Linked DNA regions of Homo sapiens: region 2 is linked to region 1. Evidence: fine-mapped expression QTL. Tissue or cell type: whole blood. Region 1 holds a variant in brackets; the other region holds the start of a gene. All regions are shown on one strand. Distances are from middle to middle.

Region 1 (4,389 bases):
ATTTTTTATTTTTTTATTTTTTTTGAGATGGAGTCTTGCTCTGTCTCCCAGGCTAGAGTGTAGTGCTGCAATCTCTGCTCACTGCAGCCTCGACCTCCTGCTTTCAAGAGATCCTCCTGTCTCAGCAACCCCCAAGTAACTGATACTACAGGCATGTGCCACCACGCCTGGCTAATTTTTGTACTTTTTGTAGAGATGGAGTTTCACCATGATTCTCAGTCTGGTCTCGAACTCCTGGGCTCAAGCGATCCACCCACCTCGGCCTCTCAAAGTGCTGGGATTACAGGCATGAGTCGCCACGCCCAGCCCATAGTCTTCTTAAAGTGAATAATGAAGGCAGTGGATGACATTTATCAAGCCGAAAGAGATCTCAATGAGTCTAATGACTTTCCTTCAATTTAAAAAAAAAGATAAGATAAAATAAAAAGTTGGTGATCCCAACCAAATTGCCAATGACACAAACATATCTAGTGAAAAATTTTGAAAGCTCCAAGCTCAGCCTTCAATCTGATGTAACGATTTCTCTGAATAGCATCAATCTAACATATGTTGTGCCCTTTTTCCCTGATCATTTCTTGTTTGGAAGATTCTATAAATGATTCAACCAAACATAATCTTTACTGTATTTTTATTATTGATCCAATTAGTTTTCCTCTACTATGCCTATGTATTCCCCACATCCCTGCTTGACTCTAAGTTGTGCGGTAGACAAATTAAGCTCCCCAAACCAAAGATCCGCTGGTATCCTTTCATATTCTTGTATGCAGGTTTGATGAAATGACCCAAACCATGGACAAAGGGTTCCCGCAGAGAGTGGTAAAACACTTTCCTGGAATCAGTATCCGTGTTGATGCTGCTTTCCAGTACAAAGGTAAGCATGGATGTCTCACTTATTGGGATACTTGAGAGACTGTGTTGACTGTGAAAAAAGACAGCACAAAAACTTAAATGCTTTTATTTTAATGCAATTTTGCTACTCTTAAGTATATACAATAATAAACATTAACCCCACAAACATTATCACAAACTGAATCCATAAATCCTGAATTATACTCTCTGTTATACTATCTCAAATCTATGTAAAAAGTACCAAATCCATTTTACTCATCATTGATAAGTAAAGACACCCCCTAAAGTGTGCGAAGTGACTAAGCACATGAACAAAACAATGATTCTCAAACTTTAATGTATGTACCTTAATGTACATAGCTTGGGGTTTGTGTGTGAAACAAAGTATTTGAGGCAGAATTGTGAGTGATACCTAAGAATCTGCAGTTTTAAAAGAACCTCAGGCAATGTAATGAATACAATCCAGCAACTATATCATCCAAGACAATGACCTAGACCATGGGGTAATCTAGAAATATCTTTGAGTGACATGATCTATTATTACAATGAAATCTAACACAGAACCTCAAAACCTAAAACAGATCAAAGTAGAACGGCTCTAAGAAAATGAGAATATAGAGACCAAGGCCATATCCACAGGGGCCTTTTCCTCCCCCTCACTGAGACACTTTGTTGAAGCCTAGTTTGAAAACCTCTGGCATAGACCACAGTCTGGCTAGAAAGGTAAAAAGTCCCTTGAAACTCACCCTTTATAACACTGGCTTCCTCCTTAGGGAAATAAAAATAATAGGATTTCCCACATGACAGTAGAAAACTAAAATGTATGTATGTGATTCCACAAATTTCTTCGTTCTCCATAATGTTATTTTTTTCCATGTTTATAAAATTTAAAAGTATGGAAGTATTATATAGTTATGAAAGATAACTAATCCTGATTCCCTGTCTCTAGGATTCTTCTTTTTCAGCCGTGGATCAAAGCAATTTGAATACGACATTAAGACAAAGAATATTACCCGAATCATGAGAACTAATACTTGGTTTCAATGCAAAGAACCAAAGAACTCCTCATTTGGTTTTGATATCAACAAGGAAAAAGCACATTCAGGAGGCATAAAGATATTGTATCATAAGAGTTTAAGCTTGTTTATTTTTGGTATTGTTCATTTGCTGAAAAACACTTCTATTTATCAATAAATTCATAGACCTAAAATAAACCTCAACAGGTCTTTTAATATAAATTCTGCTTCAAAATAGAATAAAACCATTCTTTAACAACAAGTTGCTGGTCCTAGTTCTAAATATCCAAATTCAATGGCCATTTTGAGCTGCCTGATTCTTTTAATAGGAAGTTATTATGTAGAAACAAAAATCTCTGACTGTACTTTAAGCCTATTTCATGCTTTGTGGACTTGGAGAAGACATGTCTTATAACTGAATACTGAAACATTTATTAAACCAATCTTTAGCATTCTATTTTGTCTGGACCTTTGGAGTTTAAGAGCCCCAATAAACTACAGTGCTCATCCCTATGCATGTTCTGAACCCATCAATCAAGTAAGTTACTCCACCTCCCAAAGAGAAGGGTGACAGCCTGGATAGATGCAGGGTGAGTTACGTTAGAGGTTATTCTCTGACAAGTAAGGAACTAGCAGAAGTAGGAGAGAAGTGTTCCCCCAGCCTCACAAACATTGACCAACGCCGTTAAACATT[C/T]CTTAGGGAATATAAAATTAAGTTTTCTGCACACTGATTTCAGACACAAGAAATGTGAGGATTTTCATCCTGTGTTTGTGGTATATGTGCATCATCTGAGCCTATGGGTAGAAAGTTTCTGTACTCTTTGTTCCATCATGGATTTGTTGACTTTCTAAATGCTTATGGCTTGATTTTATCATTATACCCTCAAAGTTAAGTGCTTAGCAAAGCTCTTAACAAAATTTTTGACCCAGAAAATGGGAGATTATCAGTGGAACTTGCTTCTGATGAGGTGATATATTGGGCATTACGTCAACTGATAGAAAATAGGCATAGAAAATCACACAAATTCCTACAGTTGGTCCCCACCCCCACTTCCCTGGAGTTCAGTGTTCCCAGTTGCCTAAAAGAAGAGGTGCATAAAAGAGTTATTCTATGTTTGAAACACAAAGTAAATTTTAAGAAGTACAGCTTAACACTCAGCAGGTAGTAGTTAGTAGTCTTTGTGAAAAAAATATATAGTGCTGGAATAATCAAATATCCATATGCATGAAAAAAGAATGTTGACCCCTACCTCACACTATTCACAAAAATTAATAAAAATGTGCCATAGACCTCTAAATATAAGAAATAAAATTATAAAACTTGCAAAAAATATTTTTTAAAAAAATTTTGGGACTTTGGACTAAGCAAAGATTTCTTAGGTAGAACATAAAAACTATTAACCATTAAAAAATGAATGAATTAAACTTTAACATTTAAAACCTTTGCTTTCAAAAAACAATATTGAAAGAATAAAAAGTTGGCTGGGCACAGTGGCTCCTGCCTGTAATCCCAGCACTTTGGGAGGCCAAGACAGGAAGATTGCGTGAGGCCAGAAGTTCAAGACTAGCCCAGCCAACATAGCAAGACCCTATTTCTATATAAAACATATAATTAAATAAAATTTTTTTTCCAGGCGTGGTGGCTCACACCTGTAATCCCAGCACTTTGGGAAGCTGAGGTGGGCGGATCATGAGGTCAGGAGATTGCGACCATCCTGGCTAACATGGTGAAACCCTGTGTCTACTAAAAATACGAAAATTAACTGGGCTTGGTGGTGCGCGCCTGCAGTCCCAGTACTCGGGGGGCTGAGGCAGGAGAATCGCTTGAACCAGGGAGGTGGAGGTTGCAGTGAGCCAAGATCGCGTAACTGCATTCCAGCCTCATGACAGAGTGAGACTCCATCTCAAAAACAAAACAAAACAAAACAAAACAAAACAAAACAAAACAAAACAAAAGAAAAAACTGCTGGGCTGGGCGCAGTGGCTCATGCCTGTAATCCTAGCACTTTGGGAAGCCAAGGCAGGTGGATCACAAGGTCAGGAGTTCAAGACCAGCCTGGCCAAGATGGTGAAACCCTGTCTCTACTAAAAATGCAAAAAATAATTAGCCAGGTGTGGTGGCAGGTGCCTGTAATCCCAACTACTCGGGAGGCTGAGGCAGGAGAATCGCTTGAACCCAGGGGGCAGAGGTTGCAGTCAGCTGAGATCACGCCACTGCACTCCAGCCTGGGCAACAGAGTGAGACTCCGCCTCAAAAAGAAAAATAAAAATTTAAAAGGATGAAAAGTCCAGCTATACACTGGGGAAAAAATATTTTCAAAACATATATCTGATAAAGGACTTGTATCTTAAATATATAAAGAATTCTTATAACTCATAGATAAGACAAACAGCTCATTTTTTTTTTTTTTTTTTGAGACAGGGTCTCACTCTGTTGCCAAGGCTGGAATGCAGTGGTGCAGTCTCAGCTCACTGCAACATCTGCCTCCGGGTCTCCAGCAATTCTCCCACCTCAGCCTCCCAA
Region 2 (4,389 bases), 33 kb before region 1:
GATTTTTGGGGGAGAGAGCCTGAGAGAACTCAGTCCCAGGGACCAGAAGCAGGTGAGGCACAGACACCACGGAGGTAGACAGTGGTCAGGTGTGGAGAAAGGATTCAGAAGGCACAAGCTGGAGCCCTGAAAGCAAATGCAGTATAGCCTTCTCCACCACTGCACCAGGGCTGGGCCTGTTGGGGGAATCCAGACCCAACCGTTCAATTTTTTAACATAGCATTTACCCAAACACCAAAAACTAAGTTTACCGAAGTTTTAGATTCTCAACTAAATCACTTGCTGTTATGTTCAGAAGAAAGTACATTTATAAACCTTGTAAGCAAGCCATTGCATCAAAATAACTCAACATAGAGTTAGACCAATGTTAAGGCATTTTCGTGGAGGAAAAAGCATTTTTTCACCAAAGACCTAATGTAAAGAAAGCCACATTAAGCCATGAACTCAAGGAGGATGAACATGACCGTGATCTTTGAACAATTTGGCAGGAAGCTGTCACATTTATATTAATACAAAGAATGGGTTGCTACATCTCTGCATGTCTACATTCTACCTCTTCATGATCCGGTTCAAATTCCACCTCCCTCATGAAACCTTCCTTGATTTCACTCCCTCCACACCACTGCTGTTTCCTCCAAACACCCACAGCATTTTATCCAAACCTCTATTAATTTATCTCCAATACTCTAGCACCCATCACAGCATGTGGCATGTAGTAGATGACAGGAAATGTTTACTGAATGAATGTAGGAATATACATCATTAACATTAATCTGCTGTCCAGATATGTTCTAACCCAAGACACCTTTCTTTGGATCATTTTCAAAGTTCCTAAGTGACCTCAGGAAAGATCAGAACTCCTTATCATAGCATCTCAAATACACTCTTTACATATTAATACATGCTATGTATCATACATGTAGACACATGCATTTATACACAAGAATACCTGCCTTTACCAAATATGTATGCATATATGTAAATGAGTATTCACAAAGACTGTGTATGATAACAAACTACATGCATGTGGACTCAGAATAAGTGGGACCAGGTTACATGATTTGAAAAGCATGCCCAGGGGCCTCTGACAAACAGTCTCCTATGTAGCCATATTGTCTGGAAATCTCTCAGTGTCTTACTCCTTGAAGATGTACAACATCTCATTCTCCCTCTCCCTTGTCTTCTGCCTGTGAATATAAGCCAAAGTATCCAGCTGTTGAAGGCCTAGAGCTGCTGCTCCACTATGGCCCAGCCAGAGACTCAAGTGGGAGACTACCATGCAGAGCTTATAGTAGCTCCCAGCTCAGTCTCTCTAAACATACCCTCTGGGGTTGAATCCTGGCCCCTCCACAAATGAAACATGTGACTTAAACAGGTCATCTAAATGTCTCTGGATTTGATTTCATCTGTAAAATGGAGATAGTAATAGCATCTCCCTCCCAAGGCTATGTGAAGATGGATTGGGGTAATATGTGGAACACAGTACAAATGTCTGGGCAATCATAATTTTTTAGCAAATGTTCATTATTATCATCATCAGTATTGTTCTCTTTATCTTTTCCATGGAAAGTCTAACTTATAGACTAGGGATTTTCTAATATGTTGATACCAAACCACATCCTCCAGAAGCAGCTCTAGGCCCCATACAAAGCCTGCTTTGTAATAACACAGTCACTCATTCTCTCCACATACAATGAGGGAGGGTAAGTACAGAGATTCTCTAGTTGGGCTCCTTGGTCCCAAGATATCTACCACAAACCTCAAAATATTCCCCTGCATAAGTTAATTCAACCTCAACATCTTACATAGTCAAAAAATGTATCCACATAACTTCAGGATTAGTCCCTTGTTCCTTTTCCTCAACCAATTTTGTAAAAGGAAATAACTAAAACATCCAAAAGCAAAGAGTAGAAAGTTGGAGTTTTGAAAGACTGTTGAAAGACTCCCCCATTTGGGGGTACTAAATCACATTATAAAATTGCAAAACTGTCAGAGTGTAATTAACCTATGTTGCTTCATATTCCTGATGCAGCAATTGTTTAAGACATGGCTTTAAAGAGGACTGCAAGAGAGCTGTGAGTGACACATGATGCTGTGAACGTCAGGGTGCTCGCCAGGGAAGGGCCCTACCCAGAGGGACAGAAAGAAAGCCAGGAGGGGTAGAGTTTGAAGAGAAGATCATGTTCTCCCTGAAGACGCTTCCATTTCTGCTCTTACTCCATGTGCAGATTTCCAAGGCCTTTCCTGTATCTTCTAAAGAGAAAAATACAAAAACTGTTCAGGTAAATGAACTATCAGTTAGGTGATGTTTGATTTGCTGATTATTAGGAAATAGTGTGGGTTGTTTTCTCTTGTTAATTAAAACAGCCTGAAAGAAATTATTTGGGTGATTAGTTTGAGATTGAACATCTCCTTTTAGTGATTTGGAGGGTTCCAAGCTGGTAAGGACTAGGCCTTTTAAAAGCCGGACATGAAAACAAGCTGAATTCTTTAAAGGCTGGGAAAATACTGCTGTAGAGTTACCCCTAGTTGGGAAACTTTTGTAGAAGAAATGGTTTTATTTATAAAATGGTATCATTTTCTTTCTCATTTACCTAAGGTTTTTCCTTCCAGGATATCTGCAATCAAGTTACTATATGTCTGGTGCTTCCATACAGGCATTTTCTTTGCCGCCAAAAATTCCAGATATAGAAAATAATGTGAGGATGGTAGATTACAATGAACTAGAAATCAGTACACAGTAAAATCATATTTCCCAGCATCAGATTGTGGACTGTTTATAAACTCTTGGAAGCATTATAAAAGCAGAACCAATAGTTTTTTTCCATTGTTTCACAGTCTGAAAGTGAACCCAAATTTTTAAGAAACACAAGGGAATTCTGTCACAAATCTCTCATGCACAGTTTTCTTAGCATTATAGTTTGGAGAAAGCATTATTATTATTAAGAGGTTATCTCTTAATTGTAACCCCCGGGTTAATGTAAAGTCCATTGAGTGCTTATTCTATGCAAGGCAACTGCTACACATTTCACAAATATCTCATTTAATCCTCACAAGAACCTTATTGGAGCATTATTATTTTCATTTCAGAGACAAAAATATCTTAAATCAGATAAATAATGTGGCCAAGTGCTCACAGTTAATTCATGGCAGAGTTAAGATTTGAACCCAGGCCTGTCTGATTCCAAAGCGTGTGATCTGGTCAGTGTCACCTACTGCTGTGGTTAGAGTGTGTCCCTTGAATTTATGTGTTAAAGATTTAGTAGCCCATGTGACAGTGGGTCCTTTAAGAAGTACTTAGGTCATTAAGAAAGATTAATGACACTCTTGTGTGACTGGATTAATTTTTGCTGGAGTGGGTTCTGGCTCTTGCAGAACTGGATTAGTAATTAATAGAATGGGTATTATAAAGAGGGGCTGCCCTTTGTGTTTTGCCCCTTTTCACACATGCTTGCTCCCCTTTTGTTTCTCTGCCATGTTATGACACAGCACAAGGCCATCTCAGAAGCCAACCAGATGCAGCCACCTGATCTTGGACTTCCCAGCCTCCAGAATTGTGAGAGAAAATCAGCCCCTTTTATGTATAAGTTACCCAGCTTCAGATATTCTGTTATAGCAACAGAAAATGGACTAAGACACTGACAAGGTGCCAGGTGTTCACAGGCAGCATGAGGTCTAGTTAGGTTACATTTCACTGTGTATGAAGAAACTTTTAAGCCAAACTTAAAATAGGTAATTTTTAGGCTAAACTCTTTGGATTTTGACTAAATTTAACACTTCCAAAGAGTTACTTTGGTGAATAAAATGCTAATATCAATGATATTGCTGTTCCCCTAAAAGATATTTGAAATTATTTTGAAATTATCAGTTCTCATTTGAGAGGCAACATGGTGAGTTAAAATCTGAATCATCACTTGGAAAATTCCTTAATTCTCTGTGCTTCTGTTTGTTCAGCAGAATAAATAAGCCTTTTCTACAGTAGTGAAGAGGATAAAAAAGAGGAACTGCACTGATGCAACAAATACCTCAAGAGAAGTCAATTAATGTTAGTCCTAATTTTTTTGTAAAAACAAGAAGACAGTCTCCTGACTGTAGAGTAGCACTTTGCCTGTGTGATGTGATCCTCATCCCTTATGAGACACCCTTTTTTATGCATAACCATTAACTGGAGCACTGAGTGGAGGAACTGTTCTTTCTAAAAAGAGTTGTTCTCTCAAAGCCAACCTACAAATTAATTTGTGTTATTGTTCCTGTGGCTGTCAAGTTATCAGACCTCTGTAGTAACTTAGAAAGGGTTGCAAAATGACCAGAGAACTGGAGGTCCTTTCACAGCAAGACCCCTATGTGCTTGTCTTTGTCCAGGACTACCTGGAAAAGTTCTACCAATTA

The links. PIP is the estimated chance that this variant, and not a neighbour inherited with it, causes the effect. A credible set is the group of variants that fine-mapping cannot tell apart.
Region 2: it holds the start of MMP8, and the variant in region 1 is the best candidate, but not a certain one, in a credible set for the expression of MMP8 in whole blood (TOPMed, PIP 0.88).

What each region holds. Positions count from the first base shown.
Region 1 is chr11:102,689,420-102,693,808 of GRCh38, reverse strand. MMP27 (matrix metallopeptidase 27) reads left to right here. Exons shown (of 10, transcript NM_022122.3): 9 at 768-871; 10 at 1,799-2,322. The coding sequence ends at 2,043. Among named protein-coding and RNA genes, the nearest start is that of MMP27, 14 kb to the left of the region's middle. The variant C/T (reference allele first, on the strand shown) is at 2,560.
Region 2 is chr11:102,722,647-102,727,035 of GRCh38, reverse strand. It overlaps MMP8 (matrix metallopeptidase 8), which reads left to right and starts at 2,082. Exons shown (of 10, transcript NM_002424.3): 1 at 2,082-2,282; 2 at 4,363-4,389. The coding sequence starts at 2,181. RefSeq lists an enhancer at 1,676-2,875.